3 linked regions of the Homo sapiens genome follow. The protein of the gene in region 1 purifies or fractionates together with the protein of each later gene. This does not show direct contact. Each region holds a gene or a part of one and is shown in the gene's direction. Other genes may lie near its edges.

Region 1 (7,026 bases):
TGATCATCCCATCCCCGCCCAAGGACGACTCCCCTCAGCTGAGCGAGGAACTCCGGCGGGCAGTGGAGAAGAAAAAGTGCTCCTTGTGCTCTTTCCAGTCGTTCAGCAAGAAGGGCATCGTGTCCCATTACATGAAACGCCACCCAGGGGTGTTCCCAAAGAAGCAGCACGCCAGCAAGTTGGGGGGCTACTTCACGGCCGTCTATGCAGATGAGCATGAGAAGCCCACACTGATGGAAGAAGAGGAGAGAGGCAACTTTGAGAAAGCCGAGGTGGAGGGTGAAGCTCAGGAAATCGAGTGGCTCCCATTCCGCTGCATCAAATGCTTCAAGCTGTCCTTTAGCACTGCAGAGCTGCTGTGCATGCATTACACTGACCACCACAGTCGGGACCTAAAGAGGGACTTCATCATTCTGGGCAACGGCCCCCGCTTGCAGAACTCCACCTACCAGTGTAAGCACTGTGATAGCAAACTGCAAAGCACAGCCGAGCTGACCTCACACTTGAACATTCACAATGAGGAATTCCAGAAGCGTGCCAAACGTCAGGAGAGGAGGAAACAGCTTTTGAGCAAGCAGAAATATGCAGATGGTGCTTTTGCAGATTTCAAACAAGAGAGGGTAAGGATATGTTTTGATTTCCCTTCCCCCAGGAGGCCTCTCATCACTGGTGCCCACATGCACTTCTTCGTTGCCAGCCAAACTGCTGCAGGCTTCCTAGTGACTTAGCTTGCCAGAGAGCTCAATAAGTCAATTAAACATTTCGAGCTTGATTATCTCCCATTCTGTGCTCACCCCTCTCCTTGGTCCCTTCTCCTCCCTCCTTCCCTTTGACTCCTCCCATGGCTCCCCAGGGGAGGTTTGGGGTGGTTTCTATGTATGTCTTTCTGCCAAGTAGCTTTATCTGAAGCCTAGTTTTACAACAACGCTCGCTCTTTCCTAAGGCAGTGTGGGCTGTCTCTTGGTACCATTAGCACTTCTCAGCCATGTCTTGGTCTTCAGTGTTTGCTACATGAACCTAACGTCTCCAGGAGTAGATTTTATTTTATCAAGAAGTTCATTAATGGCGCAACTATGCAACGTTTCACCTGCCTAGTTGAAACTGGTTTGAAAACCAGATGACTTAGTGGCAGTGACGATGAGCTTCTGCACAGAAATCTTCTCTACTCACAAGCCGTAATGTATTTGGGTTTCAAAGACTTTGCATAGTAGGCAGCGTGCCATGATGCTGACAAATTTGTTATATAAAAATACTCGCCTATATCTCCCTTGGTTTTTAACCTGCTAATCGGCTTTAAAATAAAGTATGTTAGTAAACTGCAAGAATAAATTCTGACAATTGAGGGAGGGCTCGGAGTACTGATGGCTACCACTGTATTTTACCAGCCTTTTGGTCACTTAGAAGAGGTGCCAAAGATCAAGGAGAGGAAAGTGGTGGGCTACAAATGTAAATTCTGTGTGGAAGTGCACCCAACGCTCCGAGCCATCTGCAATCACCTCCGAAAGCACGTCCAGTATGGCAATGTCCCAGCTGTGTCAGCTGCTGTGAAGGTGAGAACTGGAAGGTCTGGATGAGCATTGTGTGTGAGCGATTCGAGTTACTTATTAACCCCATTGCCTAAAGCAGCTCAGGAAAGAGCATCTCAGAATGCGGGCATTCCTGAATTATGCTTGGATTGGTTTGGCTTGTTTTGATTTCTTTGCAGGTTGGACCTTCCTCATCTTTCTGTTCAGGGAAAGGTCGAGTTTCGATCTGGTTTCCTTCCACGCGGATAGTTTGGTGGCAGCAGAAGGTCCAGGATTCTCGGTCTAGGAGGCTTCGGGTCGTCCTTCTATTCTGCGTTTAGTGCCATTAGCTCTTCGTTCTTCCAAGTTGCCCGAGCTCTTGAGAGGAATCAAGTGGGTTCTGTTCCCATCATCTTCTGCTCCTCTTTCTTCCTGACTTCTTACTGTTCTCATCTGGCTGAGGATGCAGAGAGCCTAGGAGAATCTCTTTGTCTTCTTATCCTGGGTCCTCTGGGGACTGCAAGAGACATTAAAACTAAAAGCGTTCAAGTCGCAATTGACCCTGAAAGCCTTGGTTTGTCTCCTCCATCCCCTCTCCCATATGATGCTGACAAGTGTCTTCCCTTTTCCCTCTGACTTTTATTAGGCCACCTGTTTTGAACATCATAATCCTAATAGCAGCCACCATGTCAGTAACCAAGCCACCATCCCCGTCTTCCAGGATATTGCTAAGCCCTATTATTTATTAAAACAGAAGTCATTTTGGGGTTCTGCCCTTTCTCTAAGGGTACACGCGAACATATTTTTGTCATCTGCCCTTCTTGAGCTTACATCCTATTTTGCCAATTTAACATGAAGATAAAGTCTCTACTTTTCTTCACTGAAGACTGAAGCTTTCTGTCTTTTGGCAGAACAGTGGCAACCCAGGGATATCAGCAGTCACTTTCTTTCAGACACCACTGCGGTGTGTCCCAGGCTCGTTTCCTGGGATCATGTGAGAGAGACAGAAGGGCTTTTCCTGTGTAATCAGTAACCCAAGGAGCTATCTCGAAAAACAGGTGACTTAAAACTAGGCTGCTCCTTAATTTTTTGAATTGATTATGCAGCAGTCTCCAGTCATAGAGTGAAGTCACCATCTACAGGGTAGGGGGCAGACAGCGGGATCTTTTGCTTTGCTTCCTTTCCAGATAATGGCCCAAGGCTCCTCAATGACCATACTACTTTGCTTTTCTTTCTCTTCCTTTCTTCCTCTCCTTTCTGTGAGCCACAACCCTAGCCCAACTTTATGTCAACTTAGATGGGGTTGCAGTTTGAATTTTCTTTTAAGATGGGGAAGAAGTGAGTGAAGTGTCTTCAGAGTGGGAGAAGCCCTTGTTCACATTTCGCAAACAGTAGCAACCTGTGTCCGGGTATGTTGTCCTAAAATCACCTCCACTGCATGAAGAATGGCAGTTGGGCTTGCTCTCCCTCTAGGGGTAGCTGGAGAGGCAGGGGAGGAAGCTTTGACAAGAAGTGCTGTTGAGTTTGGGAGAATGTAGGGAGAAAAAGAAAGCTGGAGGCAATGATGATGGATATTTATTTTGTTGGTGGGGCATGTGTGTGTGTGTGGTTCTCTTAGCAGGAGGCGGATGACCCTGCCCACTTGTTCCTGGATGGATTGGAAGCAGCCAAAGACGCCAGTGGCGCCCTGGTGGGCCGGGTGGATGGTGAACACTGCTTGCTTGATGGAATGTTGGAGGATGAAACCCGGCCGGGGGGATACCATTGCAGTCAATGTGACAGAGTCCTGATGTCCATGCAGGGGCTGCGTTCTCATGAGAGGAGCCACCTGGCCCTGGCCATGTTTACCCGCGAGGACAAGTACAGCTGCCAGTATTGCTCGTTTGTTTCTGCTTTCAGGCACAAGTAAGTGCTATTGGGGGGTCACTAGTGGTTACTGGGAGATGATGTCATAGTGGAAGGCACTAAGCTAAAGCAGAAGCTTGGATGAGTAAGAAGGCCCCACTCATGGTTCACACCTGCTGCTATGTTACCTGGAGCCTCAGTCACCTTTTCTGTAAAATGGGGCTGAGAACAGGAGATTGATCGGATGGCGTTAGATTTGGCAAATGCAGGCATTTTAAAAATGAGAATTGGAGGAATTGCTATGATTTACCCAAAGGTAAAATGGCATCTGTGGAGAGTAGATGAGTCTCCTGATTCATCGTTCAAACATTCAGCCAAAATCTAGTCATTGTTTGAGGAAGTAAAGTCCATTTAGAAAACTGAGTTGCTAAAGAGGTAAAATTAGGACTATTAACCCATGTGACCAAAGAAACATTGCTTGCAATTTTTCAAAAGATCTTGAAAGGTAAAGAAGTTCATGGATGCCAAAGAGTTGCTTGACATACAGGGAGATTGAGGAGAGGGAGCTTCCCATTACTCATCACAGCTTTGAAAGTGTAAATATGGAATAGGTGTGTAAGGCTTTTTGGGGCCATGGAAAGAGGGGTGGTTTTAAGAACAACTTTTTGTTGCCTTTCTCTTTCAGCCGTGTAAAAGAGAGATAAATATTCAATAATGCGTTTGGACAGTCTTGGATAAAGGTGACTAAGACTGACATGCTTTTTAAAACAATTTTTTTAATGAAATAAATGATGGACTATTTGCTTCTTACAAAAGATAAAGGGCCAGTTAGTGGTTGTTGAACAGAAGAAGGAGGTGGTGTTTTCACAGAGGTTAGGATGGGTTGTAAACACTTTATTATTATACAGAGCCTAATATCTAATCTTTGTCATCAGATCCATACATTGGCATAAAACTTGAAATACTTCAATTCAAGAAGTATTTATTGAACAGCATCTATCACATTGTCTGACGCACAGTGGAACTTTAAATAATTGTGAATAAATGAATATATCCTGTCCTAGGTACTGTACTTTTGGGAAATATAAAGACACAGGCCATGGTCTGTGGCCAGGGGAATTTAGGGTCAAGGGTTGGTTTATGAAATTAAAAAAAAACAAAACAAAACCCACTGACTCATCAAAATAAAGCACGTCTTTGAAAATATCAGTAAAATACTATGATGTGTCAAAGAAGAGAAATGTTACATCAGCTTTGGAAGAGTCAGGAAGGTTTTATGGCATAAGGAGCATTTGGGTGAAGTCTTAAAGTAGGAAAATAGGACTTGAATAGTTTGGAAAGGACATATGATGTAGAGGAAAAGCTGAGGGAGGAGACCATGAAGCTGACTGGGGCCCTAGCTGGGGGTTCAGTTTGACTAATCCTTAAGTTACATGTAAAGGAATAGTGAAAGATAAGGTCTAAATACTTTAAAGGAGACCATATTTGGAGTTTTAAATGCCAGGAAATAGTATTTCATAATTTAAATTGCTGGTAAAAGGAAGAGTCAAATTAGCAAAATAATTATAATTGCTAACATTTATTGCATCTCACTATATACCAGGCACTGTACTAAGGGCCTTTAAATATTACTTAATTTCATTCTCAAAACTCTCCTATAAGGTATGGCCCCATTATTATCATCTTATGAATAAGAAGAGTAAAGCCTAGAAAAATTAAGTAATTTGCCCAAGGACACACAGCCTATATGTAATGGCTGAGATTTTATCCCAGGTAGTCTGACTCCATAGCGTGTGCTCTTGAGATGAAAAAAAAAAAAAAAAAATCCATGGGGGCTGGGGGACAAGGAATTAAGAAGCAATAATAGTAGCTAGTTCAAGAAGTTAGGGAATGATTGAAGGAATGGATTTGCCTGACTTGGAAAAATTGACTTCATGCGTGGGATGAGGGACAAAGTAAAATACAAATGGCAACTAGGTTTTCAGTTTACTCATCTGGAAGAAAGGTTAGTGCCATTTATAGAAACAAGGAAATGAAGAAGAGAATTTGTTTTGTAGAAAACTCTCTGATGGGTTTGTTTAGAACAGGTTGAGTTAAAGAGAACTAAAGGACACCCAGAGGGAGCTGTCCAGGGGCAATTGAAAATGTTGCTTTGGAGCTCAGGACAGCATTATATGTTGAAATGGTAAGCAGTACCGTTCCCACATGAGGCATTTAGAAGGGAATTTAGTTCTCTGGAGTGCTGATACAAATTAGAACTTCCCACACCTTGTTTGGTAGATTTATTATTTTTTTAGGCTAATAATTATTATGAAGTACTAGGGGTTCGTTGTAATTAAATAACTCCCTTGTAAATTGCTTCTGGAAGACTTACAGCAAACATGGTTGTGTGTATCAGAAGGGATGTGCGGCCTTTTGACCACGTGGCTCCTTTAAACATGCATGCACTGTGCCTCCATATTAATATAGACCCTGGCAACAAGACAGCCCATTGCAAGAAGGTCAGCCACTTCGAAACCTCCCTTCCTCACTCTAGTGTTCACAATGAAAGTAGAATTAGAATTCAAAAAGAAAGTCAGCTCTTTTCAAATGCTAAATTTCTCTAATTCCCATTCTGTTATTTGAATAAGTTAGAGGACTAATTGATAGGCACTCTCACTGGCTTGGCAGGAAGCTTGAATTCACCCATATTGTACCTTCTCTTTAGATACACTCTTCCAATGATCAGAGCTCTAAGAAGGGACAATAAAGATTCTTACCATGACCTGTTACCACTGCCATATCTCTAAATCCAAAAAAAACTCTTGATCTCTTCCTTTAGCTTCCTGTCCTCTTAGAGTAGGTACAACTCTTGAAAATTAATTAATTAAATTGATAAATGCCATTATTGGAAAGTAAACAAAAGGACTTTGAACGACCTAGAAGTAGGATTCCTGGAAAAAAAGCAATGAGCAAATCCTCTATGCAATTTTTAATTTTGTCATTTTTCTTTTTGTTTTCCTTCTACATCAAGTTTGGATCGCCATATGCAAACCCACCACGGACACCATAAACCATTCCGATGCAAACTCTGCTCCTTCAAGTCCTCCTATAACAGCCGGCTGAAAACACATATACTCAAAGCTCATGCTGGTGAGTTGTGCATTGATGATGCACAAGTTCTTTAGCACTCTCTGAGTTTGAAACCTGATGATCTTTATTGAGTGAAATACTGTCCTGCCTTACACTTGAGAATGTTATTCTTGGGATGGATGTATATTCAGTTTTATTTTTACCTAGTAAAGAAAAAATAAAGAAAAAAGTAAAAGTTAAACAAAATCACCTAAATCCAAAATAATACAAAGCCTATGTCACCCATGTTATGGTTAGTTCGTTCGTCCTACTGACAAGTTAGAATTAGACTGTTGGTGATTTTTACAGAAATTTCTAAACTGCCTATACTTTCTAATTCAATTGCCAAGAATTGTTATATCTATTAAAAAGACTTTCCAGCTAAAATAAAGTTACCAACTTAAGGAAGTTAGAAAGGGCAAAGGGAACTCAAGATGTGTGAGATTTTTCAAGAGATACCCTTAGATATGTTTCCGTACATAAGACAGAAATGACTTTGGGTTGTGAGTGTCCAGCAGCTGTGCTGGTCTCTATCATATTGTTGTTCCATCTCATTACTCATTAG
Region 2 (7,442 bases), on another chromosome or scaffold:
GTGGTTTGCGGAGCTTGCTGGCTGGGGGTCTGGGGAGGACCCTGTGCCTTACCTTGGGTGGTTGCTCAGGAAGCTCAGTGGCCAGTGCTGGGGCTCAAGTTGACTTCCAAGGAAGACGTGTGAGAATGCTGCAGTTGCTTTCTTTTTTTTTTGTTTGAGACGGAGTCTCACTCTGTTGCCCAGGCTGGAGTGCAGTGGTGCAATCTCTGCTCACTGCAAGCTCCGCCTCCCAGGTTCACGCCATTCTCCTGCCTGTGTCCCGAGTAGCTGGGACTACAGGCGCCCACCACCATGCCCGGCTAATTGTTTGTATTTTTAGTAGTGACAGGGTTTCACCGTGTTAGCCAGGATGGTCTCGATCTCCTGACCTCGTGATCCGCCTGCCTCGGCCTCCCAAAGTGCTGGGATTACAGGCGTGAGCCACCACGCCCGGCCGCTGCAGTTGCTTTCTAAAGGAGTACTGTGCTTGCTCTGGAAGGGCAAGACTTACCGTGTTGCACTTGCCTTTTGGAAGCTGCTGGAGTCAGCTTAGGCTCTGTATTAGTCCATTCTTGTATTGCTATAAAGAACGACCTGAGACTGTGTAATTTATAAAGAAATGAGGTTTAATTGACTCACAGTTCTGCAGGCTGTACAGGAAGCGTGGTGCGGAGGCCTCAGGAAACTTACATCATGGCAGAAGGCGGAGGGGAAGCAAGCACGTTTTACCACGGCAGACCAGGAGAGAAAGGGAGCAAAGGGGAAAGGTGCCACACTTTTAAACAAGCAGGTCTCCTGAGAGTTCACTTACCTCCACAAGAACAGCAAGGGGAAATCTGCGCCCATGAGCCAGTCACCTCCTACCAGGCCCCTCCCCCAACATTGGGGATTATGGGCGGGGACACAAATCCAAACCATATCAGGCTGTTATCACAATACCACAGACTGGGAGGCTTAAGAAAAATGTCTTATATTTCTGGAGATTGGAAGTCCAAGATTAAGGCGCTGGGGTTGTCTGGTGCCTGTCCAGGGCTCTTCCCTTGGGTTGTGAACACTGCCTTCTCATGTGTGCCTACGAAACTGACTGGGAGAGGGAGCTCTCTGGTGTCTCTTATTTTACGGATGCCTGTCCTGTCGGATCAGGACCCCACCCTTGTGACTGACTTTAACCTTAATTACTTCTTCAGAAGTTCCATCTCCAAATACGGCCATATTGGGGGTTACAGCTTCTGCATACGAATTCTGGGGGACACAAACATAACAGGAGCTGATGGGTCTCAAGATGTTGCCTTGAGGAGTGCATTAACAGAACCCGGGAAGAGCTTGGTCATCACGAGGTACAGTCGGCCTCTCACCCACCGTCCAGGTGAAAACCAATCCGTAGACTGGAGTCCTCGCTGGAAGAGGAGGCTGAGATGCTGGGGGAAGGCCCCACAACGCCGAAACCAGCACCTGCCATCTCGCTGGAAGAGGAGGCTGAGATGCTGGGGGAAGGCCTCACAATGCGGAAACCAGCACCTGCCATCTCGCTGGAAGAGGAGGCTGAGATGCTGGGTGAGGGCCCCACAACGCTGAAACCAGCACATGCCGTATTTTCCTCCAAGCATTCTCTGAGGGTACATGTGGGCTTTGCTAGGGTGACTATGCCCTGGGAAAAAGAAAAATCAGTTGTTATTATTTTCTGAGACAGTTTTTTTTTTTTTTTTTTGAGACAGAATCTCACTCTGTCGCCAGGCTGGAGTGCAGTGGCGTGATCTCAGCTTACTGCAACCTCTGCCTCCCAGGTTCAAGCCATTCTCTTGCCTCAGTCTCCCAAGTAGCTGGGATTATAGGCACCGACCACCATGCCCAGCTAATTTTTGTATTGTTGGTAGAGACAGGGTTTCACCATGTTGGCCAGGTTGGTGTAGGGACCAGCCCCACAGGGTCGGTGGGTCTCTCCCCATGTGCGGAGACGAGAGAGTACAGAAATAAAGACACAAGACAGAGATAAAAGAAAAGGCAGCTGGGCCTGGGGGACCACTACCATTAAGTTGCGGAGACCGGTAGTGGCCCCGAATGCCAGGCTGCACTGATATTTATTGGATACAAGACAAAGGGTCAGGATAAGGAGAGTGAGCCATCTCCAATGATAGGTAAGGTCATGTGGGTCACGTGTCCACTGGACAGGGGCCCTTCCCTGCCTGGCAGCCGAGGCAGAGAGAGAGAGGAGACAGAGAGACAGCTTACGCCATTATTTCTGCTTATTAGAGACTTTTAGTACTTTCACTAATTTTGCTACTGCTATCTAGAAGGCAGAGCCAGGTGTACAGGATGGAACATGAAGGCGGACTAGGAGCGTGACCACTGAAGCACAGCATCACGGGGAGACGGTTAGGCCTCCGGATAACTGCGGGCGAGCCTGACTGATGTCAGGTCCTCCACAAGAGGTGGAGGAGTACAGTCGTCTCTAAACTCCCCCGGGGAAAGGGAGACTCCCTTTTCCGGTCTGCTAAGTAGCGGGTGGTGTTTCTTGACACTTTTCGCTACCGCTAGACCACGGTCCGCTAGGTAACGGGTGTCTTCCCAGACGCTGGCGTCACCGCTAGACCAAGGAGCCCTCTGGTGGCCCTGTCTGGGCATAACAGAAGGCTCGCACTCTTCTGGTCACTCCTCACTATGTCCCCTCAGCTCCTATCTCTGTATGGCCTGGTTTTTCCTAGGTTATGATTGTAGAGCGAGGATTATTATAATATTGGAATAAAGAGTAATTGCTACCAACTAATGATTAATGATATTCATATATAATCATATCTAAGATCTATATCTGGTATAACTATTCTTATTTTATTATACTGGAACAGCTCGTGTCTTCGGTCTCTTGCCTCGGCACCTGGGTGGCTTGCCGCCCACAGTTGGTATCGAACTCCTGACCTCAGGTGATCCACCTGCCTCAGCCTCCCAAAGTGCTGGTATTATGGGCGTGAGCCACCGTGCCTGGTCAGAAAAATCAGTTATTTTAGGGGATGGTATGGGTGGTAATCTTTATGGGTTTTGAATCATTCCTAATCCCAGGGGTCCAAGATGCCACTGGCCTGCTAGTCAAAGGGAGGGCGTGTGGAGGTCAGGTGGTAAGGGGGTCCACAGACCTCATCTGTGGTCGTCTTTCCAGTTCCTGAATGTGTAATTGCAACAGTTACCCTTGACAATGGGCAAACTCCCACACTCATCTGCAGAGCAAGGGCCAGCCAGGTAGGAAGGGCCAGGTGGATGTCTCCTTTCCAGGGTTGTATGAATGATTCACCTGGGAAGAAGGTGAGTGGCCTCTGGGGATGTGGTTAAGGAGGACAGGAATGACTCCTTGCAACTGCTGCTCCAGAGCCTCATCACCAGGACAAATCCAGCTCGCCGGTTTTCTGTGTGACTACCAGGACCCATCTGCTGTCACGGGCGTAGCCTCCACCTCTTGCACAGCTCCGCAGTCCTGCCTCGGGCCAAGTGTGGTCTCCTGCTCTCTGCCCTCATCTGCTCAGAGATTGGCATCCTCTGCACCCGCTAGGGTTCTATGGAATTGGGTGAGCTGAAGTAACAAGTGCTTTGGGAGGCCGACGCGGGCGGATCGCTTGAGTCCAGGAGTTCGAGACCAGCCTGGGCAGCACATGAGACCTCATCTCTACAAAAATACAACAACAACAAAAAATTAGCCGGGTGTGGTGGTGCACGCCCGTAGTCCCAGCTACTTGGGTGGCCGAGGTGGGAGGATGGTTTGAGCTCGGGAGGCAGAGGTTGCAGTGAGCTGAGATCAACCCCAGAACTCCAGCCTGGGCAACAGAGCTAGACCCTGTCTCAAAAAAACACAAAACAAGTGCTGGCGATGCCTCAGGCAGGGGATCCCAGGCCGGGAGGCTCCTCGGGACAGCAGTTACTGCGTCAGGAGGGCAGGAGCTCCCCAGGTGTGCAAAGGGTTTGAGGGCACGGAGGGCTGAACAGGCAGAAGGGACAGGGAGGCAAGAAAACACCTGCAGGAGGCAGCTGCCCCCTAAGCTAAGGCTGGGGACCCAGGAGGGGTGGTCCGTGCAGGAGCTGGGGAGGCCGCTGGGGAAAGGGGCGCCCCCTGGGCTCGGCCTCGGAGGAGCGGGCCGGCCCCCAGGTCCCTCGGCCGAGCCCACGTCCCGGGCCTCGTTCTGGAGAACCCTCCAGCTGCTGCTTGGGCGTCTTGGGCTGCGCTCAGCCTAGTCCCTTCTCTACCTGGAGGGATGCGCCCGACAGCCGGCGCGCCGGAGGCCCTCAGGAAACGCAGGACGAGGCGGTGGCCGTCGAGCCTCCGGTGCCAGTCGGGGCGGGGCTTGGACGGCGGGGCGGGGACTGTAGGCGCGCAGGGCTGGGCCTGGAGGGCAGGCGGGGCGGGGCCCGTTAGGCGCGCGGGGCGGGGCTTCGGCCGCTGGGCGGAGCCGTCAATGCGCAGGCGCGGCGTCGCCCCGCCCACTCCGGCTCGGCGGCTCTGGGCCTGCGGCGGGCGCTGCGGGTTGGAGCTCGGGACGTGATCGTGGGTGCGTGCGCGCGGCCGCGCGGAGCGCTGGGCTGAGGGTCCCGGTCTGCGGTTCAGCCGCGGGTCGGGGTGGCGGGGCGCGATCTCGGGCGCCGTCAGCCAGTCGGTGCCTGTGGGGGGAGGGGGACGGCGCTGCAGCTCGTCACGTGACCGCGTGGAACACGCGCGCGCGTCCGCGGGATCCCCTCGGGGGGCGAGCTCGGAGGAACGGGGTCCTGGGCAAGGTCCCGGCGAGGCCGCCCCGAGCCTGCGCGTCGCTAAGTCCAGGCCTGCTGCGTGGGGCTTCGCGCGCTCGCGGGGTTGCGGCCCGGGCAGGGGGAGGGCCCGGGTGCTCGGAGCCTTCCCTTCGCTGCCCTCCTGCCCCCTCCCTGCTTCTGCAAGCGTGTTTCAATTTGTACAACGTGCATAAAACATGAAATTACCCTTGGCCACTTCCAGGCGCGCAGCCAGCGGCTCCCTGCCCTTCCCCTCCGGGCCCTGAGTACCGGCCCCCCACCAAGGAGGAGCCCGAGGTCTCCGTCCCGGCGGCGATGCTGCCCCGTCGGCCTCTGGCGTGGCCCGCGTGGCTGTTGCGGGGTGCTCCGGGAGCCGCGGGTTCTTGGGGTCGGCCGGTTGGCCCCCTGGCCCGCAGAGGCTGCTGCTCCGCCCCGGGGACCCCCGAGGTGCCGCTGACCCGGGAGCGCTACCCCGTGCGGCGCTTGCCGTTCTCCACGGTGTCTAAGCAGGACCTGGCCGCCTTTGAGCGCATCGTGCCCGGCGGGGTCGTCACGGACCCGGAAGCGCTGCAGGCTCCCAACGTGGACTGGTTGCGGACGCTGCGAGGTGGGTGAGGCTTGGGAAGCTGCGGCGTTTCCGCGTCCCTGCTCCGCTGCGCCTTCCCGTGGAGGCTTCAAAGCGGGCTGAGAACAACCTGGATGGGGGTGCCAGCCCCTGGCTGCGCTGAGAGGGGCGTGTGCACCGCCACAGGCTGCTGGAATGAATGACCACGAACGAGTCGCTTAGAACAACCCAAGTTTTGTTGTTGTTGTTGTTTTGTTTTTTCTTTTTTTTAAGACGGAGTCTCACTCTGTCGCCAGGCTGGAGTGCAGTCACGGAGTTTCACTCTGTCGCCAGGCCGGAGTGCAGTGGCGCGACGTCGGCTCACTGCCACCTCTGCCTCCCGGGTTCAAGCGATTTGCCTGCCTCAGCCTCCCTAGTAGCTGCGACTACAGGCGCCCGCCACCACGTTCCGCTAATTTTTGTATTTTTAGTAGAGACAGGGTTTCACCATGTTGGCCAGGATGGTCTCGATCTCTTGACCTCGTGATCCGTCCGCCTCGGCTTCCCAAATTGCTGGGATTACAGGCGTGAGCCACCCCGCCCTGCCAACAACCCAAGTTTGCCTGGCGCAGTGGCTCTGCCTGTAATCTCAGCTGCCCTGGAGGCTGAAGCCAGGAGTTCAAGACCAGCCTGGGCAACATAGCCAGAACCCCCGCCCCACTCACCTCTAAAAATAAAAATAAATAAATAAAAGTAGCCGGCCCAGGATTGAAAAAACAAAAAGTAAAAAAGTTACTCCAGCCCAGGAGTTCCAGTTTTAGTGGACTATGATCTCACCACTGCATTCCAGCCTGGGCAACAGAGCAAGACTACATCTCTAAAACAAAACAGAATTCCCCTCCCCACCAAACCCCACAAGTTTGTTCTCTAAGCTCTGGAGGCCAAAAGTGTGAAATCAGGGTATCACAGGGCTGCGCTCCCTCCAAAGCCTCCAGAGGAGGCTCCTTCCTGCCTCTTGTAGCTCTAGCTCCTGGTGGCCCCAGGTACCAAATTACTCCAGTCTCTGCCTCTGTTTTTCATACAGGTTTTTCTTCTCTGTGACTCTTCTCCAGTTGTCTTATAAAGACACTTCTCATTGGATTGAGGGCCCACCCTAATCCAGGATGATCGTATCTCAGTACTGTCAACTTAATTACATCTGCAAAGACCGTTTATCCGTTTTTTTTTTTTTTGGAGATGAAGTCTCACTCTTTTTGCCCAGGCTGGAGTGCAATGGTGCAATCTTGGCTCACTGCGACCTTCCCCTCCTGGGTGTAAGCAATTCAGCCTCCCAAGTAACTGGGATTACAGGTGCCCGCCACCATGCCCGGCTAATTTTTGTATTTTTAGTAGAGACGGGGTTTCACCATGTTGACCACGCTGGTCTCGAACTCCTGACTTCGGGTGATCCACTCACATTGGCCTCCCAAAGTGCTGAGATGACAGGCATGAGCCACTGCACTTAGCTGGACCGTTTTTTCTTTTTGTTTTTTTGAGACGGAGTCTCGCTCTGTTGCCCAGGCTGGAGTGCAGTGGCGTGATCTCGGCTTACTGCAAGCTCCGCCTCCTGGCTTCACGCCATTCTCCTGCCTCCGCCTCCCGAGTAGCTGGGACTACAGGCGCCCGCCACCACGCCCGGCTCATTCTTTTTGTATTTTTAGTAGAGACAGGGTTTTATCGTGTTAGCCAGGATGGTCTCAATCTCCTGACATCGTGATCCGCCTGCCTCGGCCTCCCAAAGTGCTGGGATTACAGGCATGAGCCACCATGCCCAGCCCCATTTTTTCAAATAAGGTCCCATTCACAGGTCTTGGGGCATTGGGAAGCAGACGTATCTTTTTGGAGCCCATTAGGTAAGATGCAGGGCTCCTGGCCAACAATGCCTGCTCCTCTCCTCCCACTGCACTTCTGCCCAGTGGCATACAAGTCTGTGCACGAATGAGGGACTTCTCAGCCTCTGGGGCTGGCACTTCCTTTTGGTAACAGTGCCCAGTTTTCTCTTTTTTTATTTTTTTGAGATGGAGTCTTGCCCTGTCACTCAGGGTGGAGTGCAGTGGCACGATCTCCCCTTACTGCAACCTCCACTTCCTGGGGTCAAGCGATTTTCCTGTCTCAGCCTCCTGAGTAGCTGGGACTA
Region 3 (7,026 bases), on another chromosome or scaffold:
TCATATAAGGTGCTTTTAAATTACTGATTTTTGTTAGTTGATAAGCTGTTTTATAATTTTCAACATTATGTGAGTGGATTTACTTACACTTTCATTTTGTGAAAATTAGAGTCACTTTCAGGTTATTTGTAGTTATAAAGTGGTCTGTCACCTGCCAACCTTAAACATTTTCCAGTTTTAGTTTGTCATTCAAGTTATAAGAGTGTTTTGGTTGAATTGAGACTGTTAATGGGTAGCAGGAGGAGAAAAGAAAGTTTCAAAGAGAATAGAAGTGGTGGGATATCTGCAATCTAGAGAAAGGTCAGGTCCATTTTTTTTCTGTCATCCTAAATATTGTTTTTTAGTGTTACTTATTTAGACCATTTTCTCAGGATGTGATTCTGGAAGGAAAAGTGAATCTTATTCTTGGGAAGGCTTTTCAGTCAGGTCTTAAGACAATTGTAGCTTGCAGCAAATGGAGAAATTGGCATGTTGAGTTATCTAACCCTGATTTTATAGAGCACTTGTTTTAACCATTTTTTAAACTGTTTTCTAAATGTTTTAAATTAGTAACCTTGTAAAATAAAACGAGAATGAAGAGTGGATACTGTAATACTATGGATACATATTCAAATGAGCTTTTATTTACACTTATTAATCTTTCTGGTAGAGAGAATGTCTATTTCGTATATGGAGAATCTGTAAATATTGAGTAAAGTTGTCAGGTATAGCATTGACTGAAGCAGTTCTAGAAGTGGTGTTTTTGATTCAGGTTTATTAGAGGGAAATAAATAGCTGCTGTTAATAGTGCAAGCCGTTTACACCATTGAGTTTTGGGAGATTTGAGAATCATGGAACTGATGCTAGCACTAGCTCACCCTGCTGGTTGGCTAAAAGATTTCTCCTCTTCCCCTTAAGAAACAAACATGAAGATCACAGGAGACCCAGAGGGTAGTAAGACTCTAAATTAAATTCTGTCTTTCTTCAGGGAGAGGAAGTTCCCATGAAAAAGGTGTTTTCTTGTCTCTAAGGCCTTAGTTGCTGCATTATAATTTTTTTTGCAGATCTGCCAAGTTGAACCATGGAGTTACTATCCTTTCTTTTTCTTTCTTTTTGGTTGGGGGACGGAGTCTCGGTCTGTTTCCCAGGCGCGGGTGCAGTGGTGCAATCTTGGCTCACTGCAACCTCTGCCTCTCAGGTTCAAGTGATTCTCCTGTCTCAGCCTCTCAAGTAGCTGGGATTACGGGCGCCGGCCACCACACCTGGCTAATGTTTGTATTTTTAGTAGAGATGGGGTTTCATCATGTTGGCCAGGCTGGTCTCGAACTCCTGACCTCAGGTGATTCACCCGCCTTGGCCTCCCAAAGTGCTGGGATTACAGGCGTGAGCCACCGCACCTGGCAGTAGTTACTATCCTTTTTGAACTTCCTGGGAACTCTTATGTGATTATGGAAAGTTAGTATATTTTTATTCTTTTAATTTCAAGATAAGAAATCCTTTGACAATTGAGAGATGTTAGGAAGAAAAACAGCCCTGTGAGAGTAACTTTCCAGGAGGAAAAAAGCAGAGGATTTCAAGAGTAAGAGGAGGAGGAGCCTGCCAGGGCAGAAGTAGCAGCAGTGCACACTTCTCTTGGTTGGGAGAAAGTGAGACTGGATTAAGATTAGCGTTTCTGGGAGATTTTCTTTCCCCTCTCCTACTAATCTTGGCCCTACCTCTTCTGTCTGCTAGCTGTGGTCTTCCCATTTCATTTGGAATCCTTTGAACTGAGATTTTGTAAGTAAAAATAAAGATAAATGATTTGTTCCTTGAAGCTTAATTCTGTTAGCCTAGATTTTGGTAGAATTGAAGCTGGGTTAGAGTGATGAAGGCAGATTTTATGTGTTAAGCCTTTTGGTATGTGTATCTTTTTTTTAAGTTGAAAATACAGCTTTTAAAATACTTTATATAGGCCGGGTGTGGAGGCTCACACCTGTAATCCCAGCACTTTGGGAGGCCAAGGTGGGTGGATCACTTGAGGTCAGGAGTTTGAGACCAGCCTGGTCAACATGATGAAACCCTGTCTCTACCAAAAATACAAAAATTAGCTGGGCATGGTGGCACGTGCCTGTAGTCCCAGCTACTTGGGAGGCCGAGGCAGGAGAATCACTTGAACCCAGGAGGCAGAGGCTTCAGTGAGCAGAGATGCCGTGCCACTGCACTCTAGCCTGGGTGACAGAGTGAGACCCTGTCTCAAATAAAAAAGACTTTGTTCAAACTCTAGAAACGTAAGTATATTTTGAGCCAAATAGACAACTGAAAATTAAAAATACCTAATAAAGTGTTGATTAAAATTCTTTACACTTTACAAAGCATGTTTACCTGTAGTCTATCAATTATTTTATCTAATTTTTTGAAAAGATTAATATTTTACTTAAAAGTATCTCTTTCATTAGTTTCTTGAGGAAGATATTAAATACAGTCATGTGCAGCATAATGATGTTCTTTGGTCAATAGTGGACTGCATTTACGATGGTGGTCCCATAAGATTGTAATACTGTATTTTTACTGTATTTTATGTTCTATGTTTAGATACACAAATACTAAACAGTTATGTTACAGTTGTGTGTGGTATTCAGTACAATAACATGCTTTACAGGAGCATGTTGTAGCCTAGGAACAATAGGCTATACCAAGTAGCCTAGGTGTGTAAGTAGGCTCTACCATCTAGGTTTGTTTGAGTACACTTTGTGATGTTTGCACAGTGACCAAATTGCCTAAGAATGCATCTCTCAGAATGTACATCCATGCTTAAGTGATGTATGACTGTAAAACTAGTACTTTCAGAGCACCATTTATTGGGGAGGAGAGGGGTAATTCCCAATTTATTGTTGGTTTGTGAAGGTGGGTAAAAGGCTTCACAGAGTTGGAATTAATTGCCTTTTGTTTGCTACTGACTCACTAAATACTTTACACACAGACACACACACACATAGAATCACAATTGCAATTGTAATTATGCATATATAAAGAGGCAGGATATGATAAAGTTTGAAAGTGTAAGCCTTGAAGTAAAATTGACAGGGTTCAGATTTAGCTGTGTGAGCACTAGGCAAGTGGAATTAGTAATTACCATCTTCAAAGAGGTTTAGGGTTGATATTACATAATTCATGTAAAGTCCTTAGCTTTCTGGCATACAATGCTGAGTAAAGTAAGTGTTACCTGTTAGAGTAATAATAGTTATTATTACCATTGTTTAATTATTCTTTCTACATTAACTTGAGATTTTCACCTGTGAGTGATTTGCAGTTGTATACTTTTGCTAATGTCCCATTTTAAGCCATGCCGATAAAGACAAGGTTGTTATAGAGGAAGTGAGAGGTAGGCATCAAAGTGTGCCTTCTCTGATTCTAGCAGCAGAATCTTATAACCAGGTTAAATATTTCAGGAATGCATTCCCAGCACTGTCAGCAGATGAGTAGATACACTTGGGAATGAGTACATTTTAATGAAGTTATTTCCCAGCCAGTGCATTGGTTTGTCTTTGTTATAACATGCTGAATTTCTTCACTCTCCTTTCAATTTTTGACTGTGAGGCCATGTGGTGACTATTAGTAGAGAGAAGAAGGTGAGTGGCTATGCGTATTTGTAATGTACGTATAAACCCAAGATGAGAGTGAGGAGTGGCTGGTAGGTAGCTAGATTGAGGCGGGTGGAATATAATCTTTTCATTGGATAGTCTGAGTTGGGAATTTCCCAAACAGCATTTCCTTTTGCTCTTTTCCTCTCCACACTTTGTTTTGTATATGTCTGTGCTGGTATGGTGTTAAAGTTATCAGTTCCCCCTCTTTAATTTTCTTTCTACCACCAACCTCCTCCTAGCACAAACACGGATTTTAAGCTTATAAGCAAATTTGTCAAAGACAGCTAGTAAAAATAATTTTAGGTTCATTTGAGGAGGGGTACTAGTATGAAATTGTAAGTTTTTCATTTATGCTTGAAAAATACAGCAATTTGGAAAGTGAGGGAGGGGAAGTCACCCATAATCTTATTACCATTATATAATTATTAGTATTAAAGACAGATGACGTTAATTAAGCATCTACTATATTCTTTTAATAATCCTGTGATGTATATATTCCCACTTTACATGTGAGGAAACACATCCACTTAATAATGGAGTAGCCAAGTTTGAACCTAGGTATATCTTGAGAAGGTCTAGAGAGGAGACCTTTCTGTTCTACCTTCCTGTTCTTCTTACATATATATCCTTTTACCTAGTTGTTACACAATTTGTAAGTTTCATCTCCTAGTTTTAAAACTTAGCATTATAAAAACATTTTTCTCCCCCCCCTTATTTCAAGTGGTGTCGTATTGCTCTCATTGTCTATTCATACCACCATATAAAGGCTCTTTGTCTTGGCTGCTGGACATTGGTACAATGATGTTGACCAAAATGGATGCTGCCCTTTACTGAGTGACTAAGATGAAAAAAATCAGGCTTAATCAGAACTAATACTTTATGGGATTTGGATTGCTACAGGTTTAATCATGCTATCTATCCTTGCTGGTGGGACATTTGACTTAGAATTGTATATAAGTAAAATATAGATGAAAAATTGTATAATTTATAGCTATCTGAAAACAACTTTTTTTTAATATTTGAACACTTTGAAATGCCTTACACTTCCTTGTTAAAAATCTTAAAGGGATATTAAAATTAAATGGCACTTAATTACTATTAGTAATTCCTAATATAATATTTAATTCATAAAAGAAAAAAGCTTAATGTTGAATTCTGGCACTCATCGGGAAGATGACATTATATGTTAAGAGATAATTTGTGGGGCATAGTAACTATAGTTAATATTGCATACTTGAAAGTTGCTAGGAGAGTACATTTTAAGTGTTCACACCACAAAATATAACTATGTGAGGTAATGCATGTGTTAATTAGCTAGATTTAACCATTGCATAATTTATATGTATTTCAAAATGTGTTGTACACCATAAATATATACAATTTGTATTTATCAGTTTAAGAAGAAGAAGAAGAAAAAGGTAATTTGTGGGCATTTATAAATAGATTGTATAGGTCAGCACTGCCCAATAGAAATATAAGTTGAGCCACAAATGCAATTTTAGATTTTCTATAGCCACATCAAAAAATAAAATAAATAGGTGAAATTTTATTAATGGATTTTTATTTAACCCAGTATCTAAATACTATTATTTCATCATATAAACATGATTGAACTATTTTACATTTTTTCTTTTTTTAACCATGTTAAGTCTTCAAAATCTGTTAGTATTACATACTTAAAGCACATCTCAATTCAGACTAGCCAGAGTTCAGGTATTCAGTAGCCACATGAAGTTACTGTATTGGACAGTGCAATTACAGATAGTAAGTCCTATGGGGTATAGGGAAAGAATAACATAGAAATTGAACTGAACCGTAAAGGATAGCTGAGAACAGAAAATGCTTGAGAAGAATATTCCCATAAAGAAGTGATAGGAATTAAAACAGCAAATACAGTTTGATACCAGGTAATAGAGTGGCTTGAATCCAGTTTAGGGAATTTGGTTTGGGTGTGTATATGTGTGTGTGTGTGTGTATGTGTGTGTGTGTGTGTGTGTGTGTGTGTGTGAGAGAGAGATTGGAAATATATATTGGAGGGTGCCTAATTCGTGTCTCATACATGAGCACTTGATAAATACTGAATTAACTGGGTGCATTGGCTCATGCCTGTAGTCCCAGCACTATGGGAGGCTGAGGTCGGCAGATCGCCTGAGGTCAGGAGTTTGAGACCAGCTTGGCCAATATGATGAAATATCCCGTCTCTACTGAAAATACAAAAATTAGCTGGGCATGGTGGTGTGCACCTATAATGCCACCTACTTGGGAGGCTGAGGCGGGAGAATTGCTTAAACATGAGAGGCGGAGGTTGCAGTAAGCCAAGATCATGCCACTGCATCCCCACCTGGGCGACAGAGTGAGACTCAGTCTCCAAAAAACAAAAGAAAAAAGATAAATATTGAATTAATATTTAGAGAGAATTAATATGACACTACAGAAAATGCTGGAAAAAACATCCTAACAAAGCCTAGTCGATCTTCAAAAGGGAAAGTGTTTCATTTAGGGAATATTGATGTTCTGTGATTAACAATATGATGGAGATTGATAAAGAAGGATGAGAATTGAGAAAAGGTTTTTAGATTTAGCTATTAATTGGTTACTTGTTTTTAAGTATTTTTTTTAGGTATAACATACAGTGAAGTGCACAAATCTTAAGTACAACTCAGTGAATTTATACATATAAGTATACCTAGGTAACTCCCAGGTAGTGGGAGGTACTGGGTTACACCTGGGGAGAAGAGGATGTAAAAAAAGCACAGACATGAGAATTGTGGAATGCAAGCATTTTCCGTGATTAGAGCCTATTTTAAATGAAATACCCAGATAGAGATGTAGAATATTTTTCTTCACTGATTAAAGGTGCCTTGTGCTCCCTCCTATTAATTTCTCCCTACAGAAGTAACCACTATTTTAACCTCTAACCTCTATCACCATAAATTAGTTTTTGCTTGTTTCTTTTTCTTTTCCTTCCTTTTTTTTTCTTTTGAGACAGGGTCTCAGTCTGTCACCCTAGCTGGAGTGCATTGGCGCAATCTCAGCTCACTGCAGCCTTCACCTCCCAGGCTCAAGCGATCCTCCTCCTTCAGCTTCCTGAGTACCTGGAACTACAGGTGCATGCCATCATGCCTGGCTGATTTTTTTTTTTTTTCTTTCGGTAGTAGAGATAGGGTTTTACCATGTTGCCCGGGCTGGAGTTTTTGTTTCTAAACTTCTTATGGCATATTTGTCCTCCCTCCCAAGGGTAGTGAGAATTGATGCTTGAATCCATCTCTCTTTTCTTCTGTCCTTGTTTGGCATTGTTATGAATTGGGAGGTAAATCAGGTGATATTTGGTACTATGGCCCTTTTTTCCCCCCAGTGACAAAATCAGAGAGGTGCTTCTTAGTGTTCATTAATAGTAATCCTTTAGAGGTTAGTTTTATGACTT

The links. The genes of interacting proteins can lie anywhere in the genome.
Region 2: the proteins of ZNF462 (region 1) and D2HGDH purify together in Homo sapiens (affinity purification with mass spectrometry; 3 studies listed by BioGRID and IntAct, with this or other methods). This does not show direct contact.
Region 3: the proteins of ZNF462 (region 1) and ZNF644 purify together in Homo sapiens (affinity purification with mass spectrometry; 3 studies listed by BioGRID and IntAct, with this or other methods). This does not show direct contact.

Annotation. Positions count from the first base shown.
Region 1 is NC_000009.12:106,929,140-106,936,165, forward strand, and holds part of ZNF462 (zinc finger protein 462), read left to right. Parts: coding exon 1-620; intron 621-1,385; coding exon 1,386-1,550; intron 1,551-3,123; coding exon of another isoform or gene 3,124-3,306; coding exon 3,307-3,410; intron 3,411-6,363; coding exon 6,364-6,482; intron 6,483-7,026. UniProt on the Homo sapiens protein: Zinc finger nuclear factor involved in transcription by regulating chromatin structure and organization. Involved in the pluripotency and differentiation of embryonic stem cells by regulating SOX2, POU5F1/OCT4, and NANOG.
Region 2 is NC_000002.12:241,730,188-241,737,629, forward strand, and holds the start of D2HGDH (D-2-hydroxyglutarate dehydrogenase, mitochondrial isoform 1 precursor), read left to right. Parts: upstream 1-4,442; 5' UTR 4,443-4,508; intron 4,509-4,945; 5' UTR 4,946-5,037; coding exon 5,038-5,329; intron 5,330-7,442.
Region 3 is NC_000001.11:91,012,036-91,019,061, reverse strand, and holds part of ZNF644 (zinc finger protein 644), read left to right. Parts: intron 1-7,026.